Linked DNA regions of Homo sapiens. The protein of the gene in region 3 purifies or fractionates together with the protein of the main gene of each other region. This does not show direct contact. Each region holds a gene or a part of one and is shown on either strand. Other genes may lie near its edges. The genes, in order: SHC1, EPS8L2, SOS1, EPS15L1, SNX9, CRKL and PTPN11.

Region 1 (2,975 bases), on a different chromosome or scaffold from region 3:
GAAAGTTTTGAAGAACAGTGAGGCAGTGCAGATAAGAGAAAGCACAGTGGTCTGAGTCCTGAGTCTGGGGAGCTGGAGAAGCCCTTGGATCTTCTTACAAAAGGAAACTTGCAGTGTCTAGCCTCTAACCATCTGACATTGGGCATCACAACCTCTTCAGGGTGGTTTCCTTATTTGTCAAAAGAGGGGCACAGATGAGATGACTGCCTTCTAGCTCTGATAAGCTTAAGGCTTGGGGATTTGAGGACGGGCCAGGACTGTATTTGTTTTGTTTTGTTTTTTCAGACAGAGTCTCACTCTGTCACCCAGGCTGGAGTGCAGTGGTGTGATCTCAGCTCATTGCAACCTCTGCATCCCAGATTCAAGCAATTCTCCTGCCTCAGCCTCCTGAGTAGCTGGGACTACAGGTGCCTGCCACCACACCCGGCTAATTTTTGTATTTTTAGTAGAGACAGGGTTTCACCATATTGGTCAGGCTGGTCTCGAACTCCTGACCTCAGGTGATTCACCTGCCTCAGCCTCCCAAAGCGCTGGGATTACAGGTGTGAGCCACCACGCCTGGCCCTGTGCCAGGACTATAAAGAACATAGTTCAGGCTAAGGGATGAGCCTCTGGAGGAAGATGCCAGACACTTTAAAGAGCAAGAGAGGCCCATAGACAGCTGCCCAGCGGGAATGTCTACAAAGCAATGAGGGAAGGAAGAGGGATACACTGTAGGGTACTGTACCTTCCTTTTTGCCACCCCTCACCCACACCTCTGCCACACTCACCACACCCTCAGGGTCCACCAGTAGCAAATGCTTAGGCTGCCCACTCTGCAAGCCAGTGAGCACATACTGGCCAGGTGTGGTCGTGCTCTCCCGTACCAGGAAGTCCCCATTGAGCTGCAGCAGTGCCTCAGCCTCCCGCCGGCTCAGCTTCCCATGGAACCAGGGCTCCCCTCGGAGCTGCTCAGCCATGGACACCGACTGGGGAGGTGGAGGCACGCGAAGAGCATCTTCGAAGGGCTCTGGAAGTATAGAGGGAGGGTGAGGGGAAGTAGCAGGCACAACACACACCCAAGACCCAGACTTCAGGGAAGGGAAGTCAGGAAGGAAAGAGCAGATAGGCAGGAGAAGGGCCAGAACCAAGTAGAAAGGTGGGGATGCAGAGAGGAGAGAGACGAGCACTCACTCATGTCAAACAGGTCCCGGGGTGCACTGCCATTGATAGCAGGATTGGGGGGCCCAGCACCACCCACTGCTTGCCGGGCCTTGTCTAGGTTCTGGACGTTGACATAGGAGGGATCATCAAAAAGCTCTCTGCCTGCTGAGGAAAGGGAGGCTCTACAGTGATCCCAGCCCTGCCTCCAACACTCCCCAGCTCTGCCTATCTCGGCTCCCTTCATACCTGGACAGGGTGGTGGAGGTGGCATCTGTTTGCGGACTTCTGGATCTCCCCCAACAGGCTGTCCTACAGGCTGCAGGGATAAAAATAAGGTGAGACCAGAAGCCCTAACCAACCACTCCCACCCTAGCCCCAGCCCGCCTCCATCCAAGCAACTTACCAATGTAGCTCCCAAGTGGCTGGGGGTCTGGGCATTGGGTGCAGTGGGTCGAGCAGCCCCTGGAGCGGCTCCTTCCCGAAGCCTCATGTCTACCACCCCCCCCAAGGGGGGTTCCTTCCCCGGGAAGTCATTATAGTACTGATGGTCAGGTGGCTCTTCCTCCTCCTCATCCCATGCTGAGCCATCAAAGCCAGCCATCCTGAGGGACAGGACAGTGAAGCTGTGGCTGTAAATGTGTGGTGGGCAGGAGGAGGGAAGGACAGAATAGAACAGCAGCCATCTATTGGGTATTTACTATGGATTAAGCCTGAGGCTGAGTGTTTTATATACATAATCATTTCATTCTCCTGGCAACCCCGTAAGGTAGGTATTGTTTCCTTCCCCACTTTTACAGATGAGGAAAATGAGGGTCAGAGGTGAAAAGATCTGCCCAAGGTCTCACAACTAAAAGGCGGCCGAGCTCAGATTTAAATTCAGGTTTGACTTTAAAGCTCATCCCCTTGGCCAGGTGCAATGGCTCACGCCTATAATCCCAACACTTTCAGAGGCCAAGGAGGGAGGGTTGTTTGAGCCTAGGAGTTCAAGACCAGCCAGGACAACATAGCGAGACCTTATCTCTACCAGAATAAAAATACTACTACTCAGCCAGGTGTGGTGGCATGCACCTGTAGCCCCAGCTACTCAGGAGGCTAAGGTGGGAGGATCACTCAAGCCCAGGATATGGAGGCTACAGTGAGCTGTGATTGTACCACTGAACTCCAGCCTGGGCTACAGAGCAAGACTGTCTCAAATAAGTAATGCTCTTGCTCTTGATCTCTGTGCTATCTCCCAACAAGGAAGGGAAGCACCATGTAGGGGGGTGGGGGGCCGGGGGAGGCACTCCAGCTCCAGAATATTTTAACCTCTCCTAAATATTCAATCCCTACTGGCTCCACTGCTTATCCCTCAAGGCCTGAGGTGGGAAAGGTTGTAATCTCAGGGAAAAGAGATATCCTCCCAAACCCAAATTCTTGATGGCTTCTAGAGGCAGGAAAACACATAATGCCAAGCAGAGAAATGAGCAAGAAAGAGGGATGGGAGTAGAAAATCCCACCTAGCCAGAGAGAGATGTAACTTGGAGGCCCCGGACTACAACTCCACCATGAGCAAACAAGAAAAGCTGGTCCTGCGGCAAGCAGGGCCTCAAAAGTCTTTCCTCCTGGGCCACAGGAAACAGAAGAATAGCAGGAAGTGGGAAGCAGAGGCACACAGGTTATTCCCTCCCTGAACCTCTCAACTCAAGTGTAGGAAGAGCAGCCCTCCTTTCCTAATCCTAATCCAAGAGCTGCTCCACACTCTCCCCACCTGCTCACCTGTCATGAGGGGTGACCAGTTTGGGTGGGTTCCTGAGGTATTGTTTGAAGCGCAACTCGAAGGCCTGGCCAATGGT
Region 2 (2,498 bases), on a different chromosome or scaffold from region 3:
CCTGCGGGGCGCGCCGTCAGCCCCTCCCCACACCCAGGCTCTGCGGGGCTGGGACCACCCGCTGGCGCCGCTTTACAGAGGTCGGGAGCGCCCTAGGGTCTCCCGGAGCCCCGCTTCGCTCCATTCTCTCCGCACCCCTGTTTCCACCCCTCCATCCCTCGCTGGGCTGCTCCTCCCCCACCCTGCCTCAAGGAGTCTGGGGGACCCTTTTTTTCTCGGAGACAGGGTCTCACTCTGCCGCCCAGGCTGGAATGCAGTGGTGCAATCACTGCCCACTGCAGCCTCGACCTCCTGGGTTCAGGCGATCCCCCCACCTCAGCCTCCAGAGTAGCTGGGACCACAGGCACACACCACCACATCCAGATAATTTTTATGTTTTTTGTAGAGATGGGGTTTTGAGGTGTTGCCCAGGCTTGTCTCGAACTCGTGGGCTAAAGGGATCCTCCCGCCTTGGCCTCCCAGTGCTGCGGTTACAGGCGTGAGCCGCCGAGCCAGGCTGTGGATGTGGCCCACTCCCCCCTAGCCTGCTCCACTTTCTGTCCCCCAGTGGGTGGCCTGGATTCCGGCTGGCAGATGCGGCCAGTGCAGATGTGGGGGCTCCTGGGTGGGTGTGAATGACAGGCCCCCGCTGAGTCCACGTGGTGCAGATGCTCCCCCCAGCCTGGCACAGGGGTCTCTGCATGCCTTTGGGGAGCCCCAAGATGGGAAGGCCCCTCCAACAGGCTGGGGATCCTGATCAGAGTCCAAGGGCGGGGACCCTGGAGAAAGGGGCCAGCAGCTGTGCCCCGTCCTGGCATCACCCAGCCTGGCCCTAGACCGCTCCCCACCTCCCCTGGTAGCCCCTCCCTTGAAGCCCTGCCCTGTTTCCCCCTCTTGGACCCCGTCCTCCAGCCCCTCACCTCTAGGACCTCATCCTTGAGCACCGATAGCTCGTTGGCATTTCGGGCTGTGAAGTCATACAGGATCTTGACGTACTTGGCCATGGCTGGTGTTGGCTGGTAGCCCCTGTGAGGAACAGGAGGGGCTGAGGCCCAGTCTGGTGGGGGTCTCCTCTGAGACCTGGGCAGTGGCTGGGGGGCAGCAGCTTCCCAGGTGCACGACTGGCTGCCTCTTTTCTGTTCTGGAGGTCACCGTGGAGAGAGGCTGCAGGCAGCGTCAGCCCGGAATGGAAACTGTGACAGCCCCAGAGCTTTGGGGCCCTGCGTGGAGGCGGGGCAGGCAGGAGGTGGGCGTGGCGCAGGGGCCTGTGGTACAGCAAGGCTGGCCCATCCCAGGCCACCTCAGGGGTCTCCAGTCCGGCACCCCAGGGGAACCAGAGCCAGGGGCGTTCCTGGGAAACGCCAGGGTCACAGCTCCCCGCAGCTGGCCAGTGAGGGCCAGCATGTCTTCAGAGCCGTGGCCCCTCTGAGGACTGAACACAGCCCAAATGGTCCAGTGGAGGACGGGTCTCAAGCTCCTCTCTGTGGGGTGGGACCTGCACCTCAAAAGCGCGGGGGGGCTGGCCCTGGCTGAGGGGTCCTGGCTTTGGCATGTAGCAGGCCTGTGGCTGTCACCTGGCCAGGCCGTCCATCCTGGTCAGTGTGGCCCTGGTCATCAGGGCAGCTCCCGTGTCCAGGTGCTCAGGGAAATGAAGTGGCCATGGACTGTCAGGACATGGCCAGGGTGGACAGACCAGGAGCTGAAGTCAAAGGGTGGAAATGTTTTTAAGTGTGGTCCTAGGCCAGGGACCACGGGAGCCAGGCTGACACTGTGGGTGAGGGGAGGCCATGCTTGCTTAGAAGATGGATTGCTGGCCCCTCTTTACCCCAAAATTGAATCCTGGGGTGTGGGAGGGTCAGGGGCTTCCCATGCAGATTGGACCAGGAATGAGCACAGAAGGGAAGAGGAGAGGCAAGGAAAGACGGGACTCCCCTAGTGCCATAGGCTTGTTCTTTGTCCTCTTTGGAAACAGGTGGGGCTGGGGGTGGGAGGAGGGGAGAGGCTTCACTAGCCCAGAACCCCAGTCTCCTCTTTTGGCTCTACCAGAGGTTGGGCCTGAATCAGTCCCAACAGCCCCAACAGGGTGCCAGTGTTTGGTGAAACCACTCAAGTTCAGTGGTTTAGTAGTTTCTAACCTTGGTTCTAAAACATACATGTGGATGCACAGAAAAAGCTGATATATTAGGGTAGAGAATTTGTGCATGACTTTTGAAATGTTTCCTTTAATTATATATCATGCAGTTGAAATGAAAACCGCTTCAAATCTGGAAAAGTATTTTAAACCACTTGAACAATGCACTTGCCACCACCTGGTGGCAGCGTACCCATATGTTTTTAGAGACTGTAGGTTCTGAAGGGTTTCACTTTCATGCTCCCTCACTTTGAGGGGGGCTTACCTGTGAGTATGTGGGGAGCTGACTGGTGGTAGGGCATCCCCCGGGGGGGTGGGCTCTGAAGTGGGGCTGTGCTTCTGGGAGTTTCTTATGGACTGTCGGCTCACTGGACTCACCTGTGGGGAA
Region 3 (3,500 bases):
CAGTTATTTTTTTTTAAAAAGTTCTTCTGTCATGTTAATGACACAAAACTTCTCTTTTTTGAAGGCAACACCACCACATTTTGTTTGGGTGTGTGGGGACAGGTGGGGGGAATGCTCTTAAAATTGGTACAATTATTCCTAAAACAACAACAACAACAAAAAAGTACCTCTTTGGTGAAGCCTCGGTACCCATTCAGTTCACCGTAATAATCTGTAAACAGGCCTGTAGTACAGTGCCGGGCCTTGATTTCAACAAGGTCAGGTACCACAGCCTTTCCTCACAGTCCTTTGAGTGATTTTTAAGAAAATATTCTAAAGTAGAAGAGTAAAGCAAAGGAAAACAAAGGAAGATATTAAGATCCCTGTTTAAGTTTTTTTTTTTAAAAGTGCATAATTTGAATTACAAAAACTGTCATGTGGGCCTGCTGGACACTAGACTGTGTTTTCCATCCCTTTAATGATCACTTCACAAAAGATCACTTCACAAAAAGAGGACTCCTGCCTATTGGCCAGAAAAAGTCCCTTTATGATTTTCAGGTGCAATCAGTTGTCCAATTCCTCTAGGTCGGTCTTTCCATATTCTAAACTGGAATACCATTTCCATTGTATAATTACATCTAGGTTAAAATTCATTGTCTTATACTGCATCTTGAAGAAGAGTCGTTAGTGTTTGGAGTTCTCATTTTAACTCCTCAGTGCTGGCACATTCAGTGCATCCATTGCCAGCAATGGATTTGGGGCTAGGAAAATATACATCCCAGTACAGAGGAACTCAGGAAGAATGGGCATTCTCCAACAGTGGTGGTCCATCTCTGTGCATGGATGGGTGTGTGTGCTCCCTTTTGTAAGTTTTTGGAGGGAGTTTAGGGATATGTTGAGAAGTGCTTTGTCGTGGAGGAACAGGCGGCCCAGCAATGGAATGAAGGTCCACTTCTTGTGTCAATGGTGGTGATGGCAGATGCCTTCTTGTGCCGTGAGGAGAAGGTGTTTGAGGAGGAGGTGGTGTAAAGGGGGAAGGGCTGTTTGGGAAGAAGGCATTGCCATGGTCACTTTTTTTGCCCAAAGGGGGAGGTTGGAGATGTAGTGGTGAGCTTGAGAAAACATCAGGTGTCCTCACAGGTTCTCGTGGTGGTAATAAGGGAGGGCTTTCAGGAGGGTCTGAGATAGAGGTCCGGTCTGATATTGAATATCGTGGTGAATAGGCTTTTGATGTGGGTTGCCTAGGAGGAATGGCTGGGGGACTGTCCAAATGCTTAGACATAATCTAACAAATGAAAAGAATAAAATACACATTTATTAATAAATTTATGAAGTATCATGACTATAAGAATTAAGTTGGGGTTTTCAAACATGCTATTGGCAGGATGCTAAGTGTGGAACAGGGAGTTTTGCCATATGTTTTCTTTTTAATTAAAAAAAAATTTTTTTTTTTGAGACAATGCCTTGCTCTATTGCCCAGACTGGAGTGCAGTGGTGCAATCATGGCTCACTGTAGCCTCAACTTCCTGGGCTCAAGTGATCCCCCGACCTCAGCATCCCAAGCAGCAAGGACCACTGGCATGTACCACCATGCCTGGCTAATTTTTTTCATTTTTTGTAGAGTCAAGGTCTTGCTCTGTTGCCAAGGCTGGCATATGTTTTAAATGGGAGGTTCTGTCAATTCATAGAAAAAAAAAGTTTGCCGTAGTTTTTACTTAAATTTTTTTCCTCAAAATTTTGTTTGCTACTGCTTGCTTAGCTTATCACTCAATCTAAGATCATTTCTAATTTAGCATAAAGTACCTATTTTATAATTTTAAGTTAACTATGTTAACATTCATGAAGTTCTACAAAGAGTGTCTTGTCTTGACTTATCCTGGTGCTCTGCACTCTGGACAGCTTAAGAACTAATGAATTAAGTTTAACAGCTGGCCAAAAAGAAAAAAACAAAATTAAATAAGTAGAAATAATAGCTATTTTGAGCCTTTGGGGTCTCTTCCAAACCCAGAATTTTCATGAAAACTCCATTTAAAAGTATGTCAGATTTACTATTAAGGGCTCAGATAAGTAAATTTTAGCATATGTCAAAATACAGTTTGACTTATAATGTGCCTTCATACAAAGCTTCAGGACTTTCTCTGTATGCTTTTAAAGAACTGCTTGAAACCAAATTCCTCTTACTTTACAGATTAAAACTTTTGTTTTTTTCTGAAAATAACCATAGCCTTAGGTTTACAAGGGTCTTGAATGCATACCAAAAAACTACCTTCAGAAGAAAGAAACATTACTGCATGCTAAATCTATATGTAATCCTTGTTTAAACTATTAAGCCTGTATACTCTGAAATGTTAACTTATCCTAGTGAGAACTAAACTAGACAGCCGTTTATTATAATGAACTGTAATGATTCCAATTTCTACACAACAAGATTTCTTACTTTACCTTAGATGGTGAAGATTCTGCTGGGGCAGATTCTGGTCGTCTTCGTGGAGGAACAGGAGGAGGGACAGGCACTTCATCAGTGCCTTTGGTTAAACTTATAGATGATACAGAAGCAGATCCTGTGGGATGTTAAATTTTTAAGAAAAAGTCCACAGGAATTTTATTTCATTTATTTACCTTGAAAAGTCTTAGCTGGAAATTGCTTATAATTAAAAGTAATGTGTAGAAATACCAAAAGCTGTTCAATAAACCAATACCGAATAGTATTTCATTAAAGCAAACTGCCATAAAAGCATGCAGACATTTTTTAGCAGAATATTTAGAAAAAAGCTGCCTAAGGTATTCTGTTATTTTGCCTGAACAAAATAACATTCCCATGGTTACTCTATTATTGAAATTTTTAATTGAGTCTGATTCTCAGATGTCTGGGAGACAGTGAGCTACTGAAAATCTTTGGAATGGTAATTTTTAGATTCTATAATGGGTTCATTTTTTTCTTTGACTTTATTAGAATTTATAGAACTTCCCCACCTTACTGGATAGTCCCTGGGAGTAGAGTGTGTGCTCTTAACCACTCTCTCCAATGTCTCTCCCTAGCATTTCTCTCAAAGGATGCAAGGGAAAGAATCATAGTGTCTAGGTGAGGGGCCTCTCCTCATTTTGTTTAGTTATAGGCTCCCCTTTGCCTGTAAGCAAAAAGAGGCTCATTATACTCTAAATCCAAAAATTTTAACGGTGATGGCACTATTCAAGACAACGGAGGCAGCCCTGACCATGAAAACAGAAATTACACTAAAATCTAGTGAATCTGATTTAAGAATAAGTTGGTGGACTGGCACAAAAAAAGTAAGTAAAGCTACTAATTAGAACCTCTCTTACAGACATTTATGGTAACAAGAACATAAGGTAGGCATATAAATACACTTTGGAAAACAACACTTAAGTTAGTTGTTTATACCTACTATAAAAAAAGATGTGAAAAAAATACTTAAACCATCATTCAAAATTATAGTTGGCAGTTTTTTTTCCCTTTAAGCATTAAGCTTTTTATTTTGTCACATGTTATAAAATATAGAACT
Region 4 (3,500 bases), on a different chromosome or scaffold from region 3:
TCAGGAGTTCGAAACCAGCCTGGGCAACATAGCAAGATCCTGTCTCTACAAAAAAATTAAAAATTAGCCAGGTGTGGTGTTGCATGCCTGTAGTCTCAGTTCCTTGAGAGGCTGAGGTGGGAGGCTCACTTGAGGCCAAGAGTCGAGGCTGCAATGAGCTTTGATTGCACCACTGTACTCCAGCGTAGGCAATAGAGCAAGAGCCTGTCTCTAAAGGAAAAAGGAAGACAATAAGCAGGCCTTTCCATGTCCCTCTCTACCTTTTAATGAGATGAGATTAAAGTAATAAAATAAAAACTCAGACTACATGATATCTAATAACTAGGTATAAAAACAAATGAGGTTAGGAGATGTCATAAACTTAAAAACAAACAAACAAAAAAATAACTTTCCAAGACAAGAAACTATGGTGCAATGAAGAGGCCTGAACCTGTGTCAGAAAAGCCATGTCTGCCTGAGCTCACTGGGTACAAACTTGGGCAAGGGACGTAACAATCTCTGGCCTCACTTTATCTATTTTTTTTTTTTTTTTTTTTGAGACAGAGTCTTGCTCTGTCACCCAGGCTGGAGTACAGTGGTGCAATCTCGGCTCACTGCAACCTCCACCTCTCAGGTCCAAGCAATTCTCCTGCCTCAGCCTCCTGAGGAGCTGGGACTACAGGCATGTGCCACCACGCCTGGCTAATTTTTGTATTTTAGTAGAGACAGGGTTTCAGCATGTTGGCCAGGCTGGTCTTGAACTCTCGACCTCCAGTGATCTGCCCTTCCTGGCCTCCAGTGATCTGCCCCTCTTGCCCCTATACACTGAAGATAATACTGGCCAGAGTGACCGGGAGGATGAACCAGGCAATCTATGATGTTTTCTTTACTCAGTCCTTCCAGCCTGGTGGTGAGACCTTTCCTGACCTCCATCATCAGATCGGAACCTGCCCTGCTCTACTCATCTCACAGCATCAATCCCCACCGAATGCACTACACATTGGGCTCATTTCTTTATATCTGGGCCCCTCCCAACGATGTCAGCCCCGTGAGGCGGCACTGCCTTCAGATTCACTGTTCCATCCACTGCCCAGAAAGTGTCCAGCAAAAAGAAGATGCCAAATAAATACTCACTGAACGAACAGTGTGATCTACAAAAGGCAGGCATGAGGGCCAGGCGCGGTGCCTCCTGCCTGTAATCCCAGCACTTTGGGAGGCTGAGGCAGACAGATCACTTGAGGTCAGGAGTTCGAGACCAGCCTAGGCAACATAGTGAAACTCCATCTCTACTAAAAATACAAAAATTAGCTGGGTGTGGTAGTGGGCGCCTGTAATCCCAGCTACTCAGGAGGCTGAGACAGGAGAATCGCTTGAATCCAGGAGGCAGAGGTTGCAGTGAGCCAAGACAGCGCCATTGCACTCCATCCTGGGTGACAAGAGTGAAACTCTGTCTCAAAAAAAAAAAAAAAAGGAAAGCACTGAGAGCACATGCGTCACACGGCAGGGTCCTGACACTCTACTGTGACAAAGCAGGTCAAGCGAGTCCACAGTACCATTCTGCAGATGAGAAAACTAAGGTACAGAAAGTATTTGCAGGACTGAGGGCAGTGAAGGAATATCTGGGAATCCAAACAAACATCTAAGGACCTAAACATTGAAAAGCAGGCACCACTGCACCTGATGGTGCCTGCTTTTCTTTTCTTTTTTTTTTTTTTGAGACGTAGTGTCACTTTGTTGCCCAGGCTGGAGTGTGCAGTGGAGTGATCTTGGCTCACTGCAACCTCCGCCTCCTGGGTTCAAGTGATTCTCCTGCCTCAGGGTCCCGAGTGGCCGGGATTACAGGCGTCCGCCAGGACGCCAGGCTAATGTTTTGTATTTTTAGTAGAGATGAGGTTTCACCATGTTGGCCAGGCTGGTCTCAAACTCCTGACCTCAGGTGATCCACCTGCCTCAGCCTCCCAAAGTGCTAGGATTACAGGCGTCAGCCACTGCACCCGGCCTGGAAAGTTGTTTTAAAGTTCAGAATGGAGGTGGAGGGGTCTTGCCCAGGGAGAATCTATTTAGTCGAAAAAACAACAACAACAACAAAAACAAAAAAAAAACAGGCCAGTGCAGGTCAATAAGTGACAGTCAGGGAATTCTGGATCTTTCAGGAGTGGATTTTACTCTAAAACTTCGTTCTCATCAATTTAGACTGCATTGCCATTAGCATTCTACTAAGATAGACTAGCACTTATTTCAGAGGAAGAAAAGAAACAAGGGACAAGAGGACAAGTAAGTGTCCGAGCCACTCAGCATTCATTCCAGACACACTGGCCGGGTGCTGCTCTGGGAGAGGTGCCCAGCAGGCCATCTGGAACAGCAGGGCTCTGCGGCAGGAGGACGCAGGTGTGACCTCAGCTCTGCGCCCACCAACTATGAGACTTCAGCAAGTTACTCTATTTCTGTGGGTCTTGGTTTCCTCACTTGTAAAAGGGGAATAAAAGCCTCCTAGAATGGAGGCACCTACTGAAATACAGCAAAAGCTCCTGGATGAAGAACACATAACAAGGGGGAAAGGAGGAAGGTGTAGCTCTTTGGGCCCAGGGCAGTCTCTCCTCATCACTGAGCCCAGTTACCACGCGCTTCCTAGGTACAGCGGTCACAAAAGGGACCCACGGAAGGTACAAGGGAGAGAACTCTCATTCGGGTGGGGCTAAGGGAGGACAACACAGGGGAGGCCTCAAAGACCGTCCTTCAGGGCAGGCAGCATACGGCAGGAGCTCACAGTGATGTTCTAGCAACCGGAGCAACACAGCTAAGGATGCTGAGGCTAGAAAGTGTTGCCAAGAGCCAGAAGTGCAGGAAAGGGACCCAGCAAGGTTAGGTGGAGTCGATTCAGGGCTTACTAAGGTCATCAAAGCTGACTTTTTTTGAGACTGAGTCTCACCCTGTTGCCCAGGCTGGGGTGCAGTGGCGCGATCTCAGCTCACTGCAACCTCCGCCGCCTGGTTTCAAGCGATTCTTGTGCCTCAGCCTCCCAAGTTGCTGGGATTATAGGCGTTTGCCACTATGCCTGGCTAACTTTTGTATTTTTAGTACAGACAGGGTTTTGCTATGTTGGCCAGGCTGGTCTCGAGCTCCTGGCCTCAAGCAATCCATCCACCTCAGCCTCCTAAAGTGCTGGGATTATAGGCATGAGCCACAGCGCCCAGCCATAAACTGAGTTCTTTTGGAGGAAGGGGAATGGGAGCTGTGAAAGGTTTTTGGAACAGGGGAATATGTTTTAGAAGATGAATCCTAGCCAGATGCAGTGGCTGACACCGTAATTCCAATACTTTAGGAGGCTGAGATAGAAGGATTGCTTGAGGCTAGGGGTTTAAGACCTGCCTAGGCAGCATAGCAAGACTTCATCTCTTCAAAAAAAAAATTGTTTAATTAGCTGGGTATGATTGGTGCTGCGCTCCTGTAGTCCCAGCTACTTGAGAGGCCAAGGTGGGAGAATTGCTTGAGCCCAGGAGTTTGAGGTTGCAGTGAGCTAT
Region 5 (3,500 bases), on a different chromosome or scaffold from region 3:
TAACATTAGAAATATAGTCTTTAAGAAAAAATGCATTACCAGAGGTAAAGAGGTTCACTTCATAATGATAAAAACTTCAATTCACCTAGAAAATAATACTAATTGTAAATGTAGAGAAAATTTTTAAATTCACCATTTTAGCATCACCATCAAGTAGACAGAGGATCAGTTAGATACAACAGATCAAATAGAGGAACACAATTAGTAAGGATATACATATAAACAGCACAGTAAGTCTAGTGGACATAGAGCATACAGAATAGACACACACATCAATAATATGTATACTCTTTTTGTGCACAGGTGAAACATAAAAGCTGACTGTATGCTGGGAATAAAGTTAGCCTCAACAAATTTCCAGGTACAGTATTGATTTTAATTAGGCTCCCTGATCACAATGCAATCAAGTTAGAAATCACCAACAAGAAAGAGAAAAACCCAATACATTTGGAAATTAAAGACAATTCTGACAACTTGTAGGTTAAAGACAACTCTTTAAAGTCTCAGAAATATGAAGCTTGTTCCAACTACCTTAAAACATCAGGCAATTTCTCATGTAATCATTAGTAAAATTGATTATGTTTTAAAAAATATAATTGCCAATACCTAAGCTGCAGATGTAAATTTTGTGTTGTACCTGTATACACTTTTAACAAATACACTAAAACACATGATTAAAAGAACAAAAGCTTACAGCTGGGGATTAATAGTTTTCTACTTCAATAATCGAGTCACTTATCTCACTAGAATATATTTTTGCTCTTTTAAACTTGTCATTGAAGATACAAAAGTGATCACAAACAGTCTCAGCTTCTTGAGGCTGACAGCATTCAAAGGAGCCAGCCATCAGTTATAGAAACAAATATAAAATGGCAGTCGGGGTGTGTAATGTGACCCTGAAACAGGGGCGGGGACATCAGGAAAGGCTTTCCCGGGGAAGTGATGCTTAGACGCATTAAGACCTAATATGTGGCCAGGCGTAGTGTCTCAAACCTGTAATCCCAATACTTTGCGGGGCTGAGGAGGAAGGATCACCTCAGTTCAGGACACATGGTGAAACCCCATCTCTACAAAAAATACAAAAAGTAGCTGGGCATGGTGGTGCACACCTGTAGTCCCAGCTACTTGGGAGACTGAGGTGGAAGGATCACCTGAGCCAGGGAAGTCGAGACTGCCGTGAGCTGTGTTCGTGCCACTGCACTCCAGCCTGGATGACAAAGTGAGACCCTGTCTCCAAAAAAAAAATAATAATAATCATAATCATAAAAACTTAACATCTAAAAACAAAGTACCTAGGGAAGGACAAGGGAGAACAGCATTCCAGAAAAGAAACAGCAGTACTGCAAAGCTACAAAGTTTTAAGTGGACAATTAAAGTAAAACTATAATTTAATTTTCAGATGGTCAATATAAAAACAAGGCACAGTAGAAAAACTGCAACATTTTTATGCTTTCTAATCTATTCCTTCTTTAATGAGACTTGTTCATCTTTCTACTGTCACAGAACTTATCTTTGACTATACAAATACTGCACACTCTACTTAAGACACATAGAAAATACTACTGTTATACAAAGTTAAATGGTTAGCATTTTCCAAACATTTTAAAAGCCATAAAAATCAACTTTAATCCTTAAGACCTGTTAGAAAGATATTTCTATTCTAGTCGTCAAATAAAGAAGTTTCTGCTCTGGAGGGGCTACAAAGTATGCCTTCTGAATTGTTCTCACTAATCTATGCATGGAATAAACAAGTCTTAAGTAATTCATTTATTCCCTACCATTATTTTTAACATTCCATACCCACTTAATTTAACCAGACAAGCTGTGTAACACATGTGTATAACTTTAGGTATTGGAACCGAAGAGTTAAAAAAAAAAAAAAAGCATCAGGAACTCCTAGAATCTTGTTATAGTTAGCCTAAAGGTGACTATGTAAGCACAAAAGGATCCAAATTAGTGACTGAAGGTTAACTTTGACGTAGAAATTACAGCTAAATTATATAGATATGGATTAACCTCCACTAACAATTTTCTTCATGTCCCCTTTGACAGACACTGAAAAAAAATTCTTCATTTCTTTTCCAGAACTTGATCTTTTAAATAAAACAGGATGACTGACAATGTATTATATATTTATATATCTCATATATATATAAACTATAATATAATATATATTTATATATTATATAAACTATAATATAATATATGTTTATATATTATATAAACTATATGTTTATATATTATATAAACTATAAGTTTATATATTATATAAACTATAAGTTTATATATTATATAAACTATAATATATGTTTATATATTATATAAACTATAATATATGTTTATATATTATATAAACTATAATATATGTTTATATATTATATAAACTATAATATATGTTTATATATTATATAAACTATAATATATGTTTATATATTATATAAACTATAATATATGTTTATATATTATATAAACTATAATATATGTTTATATATTATATAAACTATAATATATGTTTATATATTATATAAACTATAATATATGTTTATATATTATATAAACTATAATATATGTTTATATATTATATAAACTATAATATATATGTATATATTATATAAACTATAATATATATGTATATATTATATAAACTATAATATATGTTTATATATTATATAAACTATAATATATGTTTATATATTATATAAACTATAATATATATGTATATATTATATAAACTATAATATATATGTATATATTATATAAACTATAATATATATGTATATATTATATAAACTATAATATATTTTATATATTATATAAACTATAATATATTTTATATATTATATAAACTATAATATATATTTATATATTATATAAACTATAATATATATTTATATATAAAATATAATATATATATAAAATATAATATATATTTATATATAAAATATAATATATATATATAATATAATATATTTATATATCATATATATATAAAACCTATAATATAAATAGGTTATATTTTGGCTGGGTCGAAATATAACCTTTGGAGGCTTCCAATAAAGGTCAAGACTAAAATGCTCTGCAGCTTTTGTATTAATATTTGTAAAACAAGACTTGATTGCACTGAGTGAGTGTATACACTTAAACTGAATGCAGCACTCTACTGAGTAAGGAGTAGAAATAGAAAATAGATAATCCCCTTAAAATGTGCAGTTACTGATTAACTTTCCTTTTTTTTTTTTTTTTCTTGAGATGGAGTCTCACTCTGTCACCCAGGCTGGAGTGCAGTGGCGCAAAATCGGCTCACTGCAAGTTCTGCCTCCCGGGTTCACGCTATTCTCCTGCCTCAGCCTCCCGAGTAGCTGGGACTACAGGCGCCCGCCACCACGCCCAGCTAATTTTTTTTGTATTTTTAGTATAGATGGAGTTTCACCGTGTTAGCCAGGATGGTCTCGATCTCCCGACCTCGTGATCCGCCCGCCTCGGCCTCCCAAAGTGCTAGG
Region 6 (3,500 bases), on a different chromosome or scaffold from region 3:
CAGCCTGGTCCAATATGGTGAAACCCCATCTCTACTAAAAATACAAAAATTAGCCGGGCATGGTGGTGGGCGCCTGTAATCGCAGCTACTCAGGAGACTGAGGCAGGAGAATCACTTGAACCCGGGAGGTGGAGACTGCAGTGAACCGAGATCATGCCACTGCACTTCAGCCTGGGCGACAGAGCGACACTGTCTCAAAAAAAAAAAAAAAAAATTCAATTCCAAGATGAGCTAAGTACTTCTCTAGTGAAACTGCTTTAACCACCATTCTTTTTTTTTTTTTTTTTTTTTTTTTGAGACGGAGTCTTGCTCTGTCACCCAAGCTGGAGTGCAGTGGTGCGATCTTGGCTCACTGCAATCTCTGCCTCCCAGGTTCAAGCCATTCTCCTGCCTCAGCCTCCCGAGTAGCTGGGACTATAGGCGCACGCCACCATGCCTGGCTAATTTTTTATATTTTAGTAGAGACAGGGTTTCACTGTGTTGGCCAGGCTGGTCTCGAACGCATGAGCTCAGGCAATCCACCTGCCTCCGCCTCCCAAGGTGCTAGGATTACAGGCGTGAGCCACCATGTCCAGCCAGTAACCACCATTCTTTATCACTGACCAGCATTTAATGCCCAGGTCCCCTCCCTTCTGTCCCTGGGCTTTCAGGCCATCACTAATGGCTCCTCCTCCTATGCTTGTGGCTGCCTCTCCTTCCGCAGCTTCTCTTTCTCTACTTATTCCTGTTCTGCCTCCTCATTCTGGGTGATCCCATCTAAGCTGCGATTCCCAAATCTATATGTATTCAGCCCTTACCTCTCTTCTCAATAACAAACCCATCAGATTGCTAAATACCACCTGGCTTCCAGCAGGTACCTCAAAGAAAGATTCTTCCTGTTGAAAAGAATCACGCACCCACCCTAATCCCTTTCTCTTGTCTCAAAGGCACCACTCAATCCTCTCTGAAGTCATCATACCTCTCCCCTCACCTTCTATGTGCCACTTTACATTCCTATGGCATTTGATCTTGGCTCAGCTTCTCAGGGTCCCTCTCCAGTAACAGAGAATTAGTCCTTCAGATCTTTCCCCACCCAGAGCAGTTTCTCAAAAGTAAAACTCATCAGTTCTCCTTTTAAAATCTGACAGTTCTCTTTTTAAAAACTTTAGATGGCTCCCATTGTTAAGCTCATTTACAAGGCTGAGGAGGCCCTTTACAAGTTGGCTTTATCTTTCCTTCCTAGGTTCCTGCCCATCATCTACATTAATTATAACTGTGTCTTTACCAGCAAGCACTGCCACCATCTCTTCTACCACCACCTCTTCTACCTCGTATACTTGTTCTCATCCTTAAAGAATCAGTTGAAGAGCATCTCCTCTTTCAAGCCTCTCCCCACCTCTTAGGTACAGTTGATTGCCTTTGCTTTTAAGCTGTCATGGCATTCTAATTTTTTCAATAGACCAAAGCTTCTCAAAGACAAAAATCAAAAACAAAAACATGGTTTACTTCCATTAGATTCCAAGAGTCTAGCAGTGAGCTTTGGTATATTGTAGGCCTCTATATATCAAAGAACTTCCCTTTCCTATTTCCCTCCTTTTTTGTTTCTGAAAGCACAAAAGCTCAGGTATTCAAATTACCTAACTCTGGTTTAATACTGTCACAAAACTGGTGTGACAGAATTCGAATACCGTTGAGTGTGCACCTTCAAAGCCTCTTCTCATCCTCTTCCACTGTTCTTGTCACGTTCATTCCAGGTGAGTTGCTATGTGCCTGGTGGCCCCACCCAACTTGTTATGATTTTAGCTCAGATTCAACTCAAGTTAATCTGAACTCCCAACTAATAGGCTGTGCCCCCTTTTACTTATCTGAAAGAATTAAAATAATGTTTTTTGTTTGTTTGTTTTTTGTTTTCCGAGACGAAGTCTCGCTCTGTTGACCAGACTGGAGTGCAGTGGCGCTGGCGCAATCTCGGCTCACTGTCATCTCTGCCTCCCAGGTTCAGTCTCGAACTCCCGACCTGCCAGACCTCCCAAAGTGCTGGGATTACAGTCGTGAGCCACCACGCCCGGCCCAGAATTAAAATATTTTAATCTTAAAGACCCTCAGAAATCTAGTCTAATCATTCAGATCAAAAGGAAAAATTTAGGTCACAATTCTGTGGATTTGAGTTTTAAAAGTCACAAATCGAATGGCTACTAGTACTTTCCATGGGAACACAACTCTTTTTTTTTTTTTTTTTTTGAGACGGAGTCTCGCTCTGTTGGCAGGCTGGAGTGCAGTGGTGTGATCTTGGCTCAGTGCAACCTCTGCCTCCCAGGTTCAAGCGATTCTCCTGTCTCAACCTCCGGAGTAGCTGGGACTACAGATGCATGCCACCACGCCCAGCTAGTTTTTGTATTTTTAGTAGAGACGGGGTTTCACTATGTTGGCCAGGATGGTCTTGATCTCCTGACCTCATGATCCGCCCGCCTAAGCCTCCCACAGTGCTGGGATTACAGGCGTGAGCCACCACATCCGGCTGGGAACACAACTCTTAATTGGACAAGATTCCATTCTCAGCATGACAGTGTTCTTGTTTTTTGTTTTTTTGGAGAGAGTCTCACTCTGTCGCCCAGGATGGAGTCCAGCTGCACGACCTCGACTCACTTTAACTTCCACCCCCCAGGTTCAAGTGATTCTCCTGCCTTTAGCCTCTTAGGCACACGCCGCCATGCCCAGCTAATTTTTTGTATTTTAGTAGAGACAGGGTTTCACCGTGTTGCCCAGGCTGGTCTCAAACTCCTGCACTCAGGCAATCCACCCACCTTGGCCTCCCAAAGTGCTGGGATTACAGGCGTGAGCCACTGCACCTGGCCATGTTCTTGTATTTTTCTCTGAATCAAATTCACATGATTTTAACTACTGGTCAGGAGAAACGCAAAGGGGTTTATTCACAGAGTTGAATTCTATGCTGATTAAAATTACTGGCAATCCTTTCCCCATTCCAAATTATGGAAGTCTAGATTTGAGTTCTTAAATAATTAGAACAGGGGATGTAAAGAGGAGGCACAACCATGCTTCTTGTTTCCTCCTGTCCCTTCAGGGATTGGCTTCTACTTCACAGGTGTGTGAGGCTCCTCTTCTGGGCTCTCAGGTTAGACTAAGCACCCTTTCTCAGTTCTCCCACAGCTGTTTCACCATGCATGGAGATTAAATATATTAAATATATACAACTTACATTCATTCATTCATTCATTTTTTGAGACAAGGTCTGGCTCTGTTGCCCAGGCTGAAGTGCAGTGGCATGATCATAGCTCACTGTAGCCTCGACCTCCCATGCTCAAGCAATCTTTCCACTTCAGCCTCCCAAGTAGCTGGGACTTAAAGGCGCATGACACCATGCTCAGCTAATTTTTTAATTTTTTGTGGGAATGGGGTCTCACTATCTTGCCAGGGCTGGTCTCAAACTCCTGGGATCTAGCGATCCTCCTGCCTTAACCTCCCGAAGTGCTGGGATTACAGGCACGAGCCACCGAGCACAG
Region 7 (4,275 bases), on a different chromosome or scaffold from region 3:
CTGAGGAGGGGGGATGGATTGAGCCTAGGAAAACAAGGCTGCAGTGATTGCACCACTGCACTCCAGCCTGGGCAACAAAGTGAGACCCTATCTCAAAAAAACACAATAATAACAATAATAATAAAATTCTAGGGCTGGGCAGGGTGTCTCATGCCTATAATCCCAACACTTCAGGAGGCCAAGGTGAGAGGATCACTTGAACCCAGGAGTTTGAGACTGCCCTGGGCAACACAGTGAGACCCCATCTCTATTCAAACAATTTTAAAATTTTTAAAAATAAAATTCTAGGAAATGCAAACTAATACATAGTGACAGAAAGCAGAATAGTGGCTGCCTAAGAACAAAGGAAGGATTATAAAGAACATAAGGCAAAATTACCAGGGGTGATAGATGTGTTCATTATCTTGACTATGGTGGTGGTTTCCCAAGTGTATATGTATGTCAAAACTGATCAAATTGTACATTTAAATATATGCAATTAATTGCATGTCATTTATACCTCATTAAGGCTGGTTAACAAATAAAACAGGCTTATAATCCAAAAAATAATGAATCATTCAAAATTATGTGTATTATGTTCATAACCCGGCTTTTTGGGTGGTGCATAATACCAGGGCTGGAGGGGAGAAGGAATTACTCCATTTCAAACTGTCATCTTTACCACTTGCTACTTTGACTATGCCCACACTTCTATGCTTCTAAATGAACAAACTGGACAATGTAGGGTCTATTACTACCCAGACCTTTTCCCAACCCCCAGCCCCGTCTGATGTCTCCTAAAGCAGCAGATCCTTACTTGTCTGGAAGAGCAGACACCAGGAACAAAAGGCTCAATGACTATTTGACAGATTAAAGAATAGACAACTGTTTATTTAAAAGCTCCCTAAAGAATTAGAACATTTGAGGCTATACACTGTTCTGTTGAAATGCAGTTATATATTACCCAGATCTGTAAGCACTTGCCAACCGACCTGTCCAAGTCACTCACTTCCTACGAGTTCTCAGTTTTCTTTTTCTCCCCTTTTTAAATTCCAGATCCATGTATGAATAACATGCCAGGTGTGTTTGGAGGAGACATTCCTAATATTTTGAAAAATCTCATTCAGGCTGGGTACGGTGGCTCACGCCTGTAATTCCAGCACTTTGGGAGGCCAAGGCGGGCGGATCACGAGGTCAGGAGTTTGAGACCAGCCTGGCCAACATAGTGAAACCCTGTCTCTACTAAAAATACAAAAATTAGCCGGGCATAGTGGTGCGCCTGTAGTCCTAGTTACTTGGGAGGCTGAGGCAGGAGAATCGCTTGAACCTAGGAGGCGGAGATTGTGGTGAGCCGAGATTGCGCCACTGCACTCCAGCCTGGGCAACAGAGTGAGCCTCCGTCTCCAAAAAAAAAAAGAAAAAAAGAAAAGAAAATCTCATTCAAATAGCCTCAATAGCTTGAATCGTTTTTTAAATGTCTGAGACAGTGACCATAATTGAACAATCATGGAAAAGAATAGACAATGGGTCTTAAGTGTGAGTGGTATATAGAGTGACTATACAAAATAGCAGGATCACTATCTGAAAACAACAGGTCACACTACTGTTTGACAACAAAATTAAGGCTTACAAATGGTTAGCAATAGTTACAAAATAATAGAAGCAACATAGTGATTAAAAGTAGGGATTCTGTCTCCACCACCTACTAGCTGTGAGGTTAGGCAATTTACTTAACCTCTGAAACTCGGTTTACTCATCTTTACAATGGGGATAATAGTAGCCATCTGATAGGGCTGTGGTCAGAACTAAGCAAATGTTAGCTATTAGTAGTAGTATTACCCTGACCTTTCAAAGGATCTCATTAACTCACTAATCCTCCTAAGTTTCAAATCTTGTCATTTACTAGCATGTTGCTTCTGGGCCTCGGTTTCCTCATCCATAAAACGGGTACCAGTAAAGTGACCTGACTGTTAAGGTTGCAGTGAAGGATTAAATAACGAGATGCGGCTCCCTTCCTTTCCATCTCCCAAAGCGAAGATCGCAGAGGAAGGAAATACTTCTAGTGGCTGCAGATACAGTCAGTTTTTCCATTTCTGGCACGTGAGGGGTAGGAGGAAAAGAAGACACAAAGAGGCATATAAAAGGGTCAGGGGTCCTGCGTGAAGTCCCCAAATGCACGAAAGTGGCACAGTGAGCCAGAACGACTAGACCACTGGGGGCCCGGCCCCGCGCAACTCCCCTCTCGTGTCCCAAGGAGCCTCCCCAAGTGAGCAGGGTTATTTCGGAATCACCATGAGGCAATTCTCATGAGGCAATGGGTCAGGAATGCGGCGCTGAGCCTGGCCGCTGGCACCCGTGGTTCCCTCGGCGGCTCTACCTGCCCCGGGCCTGACGGGCATCCCCGGGGCTGCCGCAGCCGGAACTCGGGGAGGCAGGAAATGAATGGGGACCCGAGGGGTGGGGGCGCGGTGGGGCCGGCCCCCGGCCCCTGGAGGGCGAGGGGACGAGGAGGGAACCGGCCCCCAACCCCGACCCGGGGCGGGAGCCCGAAGCCCGGCCGGGGCGCCCCCTTCCGGACGGGGCTAACCGAACGCGGCGGTGGCCGGGCCGAGGCCCGCGCCGGGCCCCTCGGGGCTCCTCACCTCCGCGATGTCATGTTCCTCCCGCCCTCCGGCTCCGCGACGGACCCGCTCCTTGCTCAGGCTCCGCTGGGCTCGGTCACATCGGGCTGGCCCGAGGGAGGCCCGCTCGGGACCGGACGCGGGGCAGAGCCAGCCGGCCGCGCACAGACCCCCCTCCAGGCCTGGGGATCCCGGAGACTGTGCAGCTGCCCCCCGGCCCGGCTCGCTCCTCCTCCGCCCCCGCCCTTCGCCGCCGTCGCCCCCGTGATGTCACCGCTCGCGACGCCCGCCGCCACTTCCTGCTTCCCGTCAGCGGAGGACCGAGCGACGGCCGGGAATGGCAGCGCGGGGGCTCCGCGGAGGCGCCACGCACAGTGTCCAAAGCATCCTTGCTTCCTCCTGGAAACCGCGGCCGCCAGGTGTGAGCTGCGCGCTCCGCGTCTACGCCACCGACCCGTCCGGGCCCGCTGCCACATCGATTTCATTCATTTCGTTCCACAAATCGCCGCTCCACTCATTAGCTGTGGAACCTTGGGGAAATTACCTACTGTCTCCGAGCCTCGGTTTCCTCCATTCTTTTCTTTCTGTAAGATAAAGATAGTAGGCTGGGCGCGGTGGTTCACGCCCGTAATCCCAACACTTTGGGAGGCTGCGGCAAGAGGTTCGCTTAAGCCAAGGAGTTCGAGGCCAGCCTGGGCAAAAAAGCAAGACCTCATCTCTACAAAAAATGCAAAAAACTAACCGGGCGTGGAGGCTGCGGCGGGAAGATAACTTAAGCCCGAGAAGTCGGGGCTGCAGTGAGTCGTGATCACGCCACTGCACTACACCCTGAGCGACAGGGCAAGACACTGCCTAAAAAAATAATAATAGGCTGGGCGCGGTGGCTCACGCCTGTAATCCCAGCACTTTGGGAGGCCGAGGTGGGCGGATCACGAGGTCAAGAGATCGAGACCATCCTGGCCAACATGGTGAAACCCCGTCTCCACTAAAAATTCAAGAATTAGCCTGGCGTGGTGGGGGGCGCCTGTAGTCCCAGCTGCTTGGGAGTCTGAAGCAGGAGAATCGCTTGAACCCGGGAGGCAGAGGTTGCATTGAGCCGAGATCGCGCCACTGCACTCCAGCCTGGCAATAGAGCGAGACTCCGTCTCAAAATAATAATAATAATTACAATAAATACTACTTTGGGGTGGGAGCGGTGGCACACGCCTGAAATCCCAGCACTTCCCTTTGGGAGGCTGAGGCGGGCGAATCGCTTGAGTCCAGGAGTTGGGAACCAGCCCGGGCAAAATAGTGAAATCCCATCTCTACAAAAAATACAAAAATTAGCCGGGCGTGGTGGCGCGCGCCTGTAGTCCCAGCTACTCGGGAGGCTGAGGTGAGAGGATTGCTTGAGCCTGGAAGGTCGAGGCTGCTGAAAGCCGAGATCGCGCCACTGCACTCAGGCCAGGTATGGTGGCTCACGCCTTCATCCCAGAACTTTGGGAGGCTGAGGCAGGAGGATTGCTTGAGCCTAGGAGTTCAAGACCAGCCTGGGCAACATGGTGCGACCATGTCTCTTAAAAAAAAAAAAAAAAAAAAAAAAAAAAGCCGGGCCGGGTGGTACGGAAGTATTACTTTGGACACTCTGTGAAGCTCGAGCAAGAGAGCAAGGCCAGAAACAGAGAAGCCAGTCAAA

What was found.
Region 1: the proteins of SOS1 (region 3) and SHC1 purify together in Homo sapiens (affinity purification with western blotting; 14 studies listed by BioGRID and IntAct, with this or other methods). This does not show direct contact.
Region 2: the proteins of SOS1 (region 3) and EPS8L2 purify together in Homo sapiens (affinity purification with western blotting; 2 studies listed by BioGRID, with this or other methods). This does not show direct contact.
Region 4: the proteins of SOS1 (region 3) and EPS15L1 purify together in Homo sapiens (affinity purification with mass spectrometry, with the first as the bait; one large-scale study listed by BioGRID). This does not show direct contact.
Region 5: the proteins of SOS1 (region 3) and SNX9 purify together in Homo sapiens (co-immunoprecipitation; one study listed by IntAct). This does not show direct contact.
Region 6: the proteins of SOS1 (region 3) and CRKL purify together in Homo sapiens (affinity purification with mass spectrometry; 3 studies listed by BioGRID and IntAct, with this or other methods). This does not show direct contact.
Region 7: the proteins of SOS1 (region 3) and PTPN11 purify together in Homo sapiens (affinity purification with western blotting; 4 studies listed by BioGRID and IntAct, with this or other methods). This does not show direct contact.

The regions. Positions count from the first base shown.
Region 1 is NC_000001.11:154,964,773-154,967,747, forward strand, and holds part of SHC1 (SHC-transforming protein 1), read right to left. Parts: coding exon 2,899-2,975; intron 1,773-2,898; coding exon of another isoform or gene 1,746-1,772; coding exon 1,547-1,745; intron 1,460-1,546; coding exon 1,390-1,459; intron 1,309-1,389; coding exon 1,174-1,308; intron 1,010-1,173; coding exon 771-1,009; coding exon of another isoform or gene 597-770; exon of another isoform or gene 514-596; intron 1-513. UniProt on the Homo sapiens protein: Signaling adapter that couples activated growth factor receptors to signaling pathways. Participates in a signaling cascade initiated by activated KIT and KITLG/SCF.
Region 2 is NC_000011.10:723,231-725,728, reverse strand, and holds part of EPS8L2 (epidermal growth factor receptor kinase substrate 8-like protein 2), read right to left. Parts: intron 2,489-2,498; coding exon 2,376-2,488; intron 1,006-2,375; coding exon 900-1,005; intron 2-899; coding exon 1-1. UniProt on the Homo sapiens protein: Stimulates guanine exchange activity of SOS1. May play a role in membrane ruffling and remodeling of the actin cytoskeleton. In the cochlea, is required for stereocilia maintenance in adult hair cells.
Region 3 is NC_000002.12:38,985,052-38,988,551, forward strand, and holds part of SOS1 (son of sevenless homolog 1), read right to left. Parts: intron 2,541-3,500; coding exon 2,422-2,540; intron 1,265-2,421; coding exon 773-1,264; 3' UTR 313-772; coding exon of another isoform or gene 259-312; 3' UTR 1-258.
Region 4 is NC_000019.10:16,465,471-16,468,970, forward strand, and holds part of EPS15L1 (epidermal growth factor receptor substrate 15-like 1), read right to left. Parts: intron 1-3,500.
Region 5 is NC_000006.12:157,826,246-157,829,745, reverse strand, and holds part of SNX9 (sorting nexin-9), read right to left. Parts: intron 1-3,500. UniProt on the Homo sapiens protein: Involved in endocytosis and intracellular vesicle trafficking, both during interphase and at the end of mitosis. Required for efficient progress through mitosis and cytokinesis. Required for normal formation of the cleavage furrow at the end of mitosis.
Region 6 is NC_000022.11:20,923,907-20,927,406, reverse strand, and holds part of CRKL (crk-like protein), read right to left. Parts: intron 1-3,500. UniProt on the Homo sapiens protein: May mediate the transduction of intracellular signals.
Region 7 is NC_000012.12:112,417,472-112,421,746, reverse strand, and holds the start of PTPN11 (tyrosine-protein phosphatase non-receptor type 11), read right to left. Parts: upstream 2,801-4,275; 5' UTR 2,636-2,800; coding exon 2,622-2,635; intron 1-2,621. UniProt on the Homo sapiens protein: Acts downstream of various receptor and cytoplasmic protein tyrosine kinases to participate in the signal transduction from the cell surface to the nucleus. Positively regulates MAPK signal transduction pathway. Dephosphorylates GAB1, ARHGAP35 and EGFR.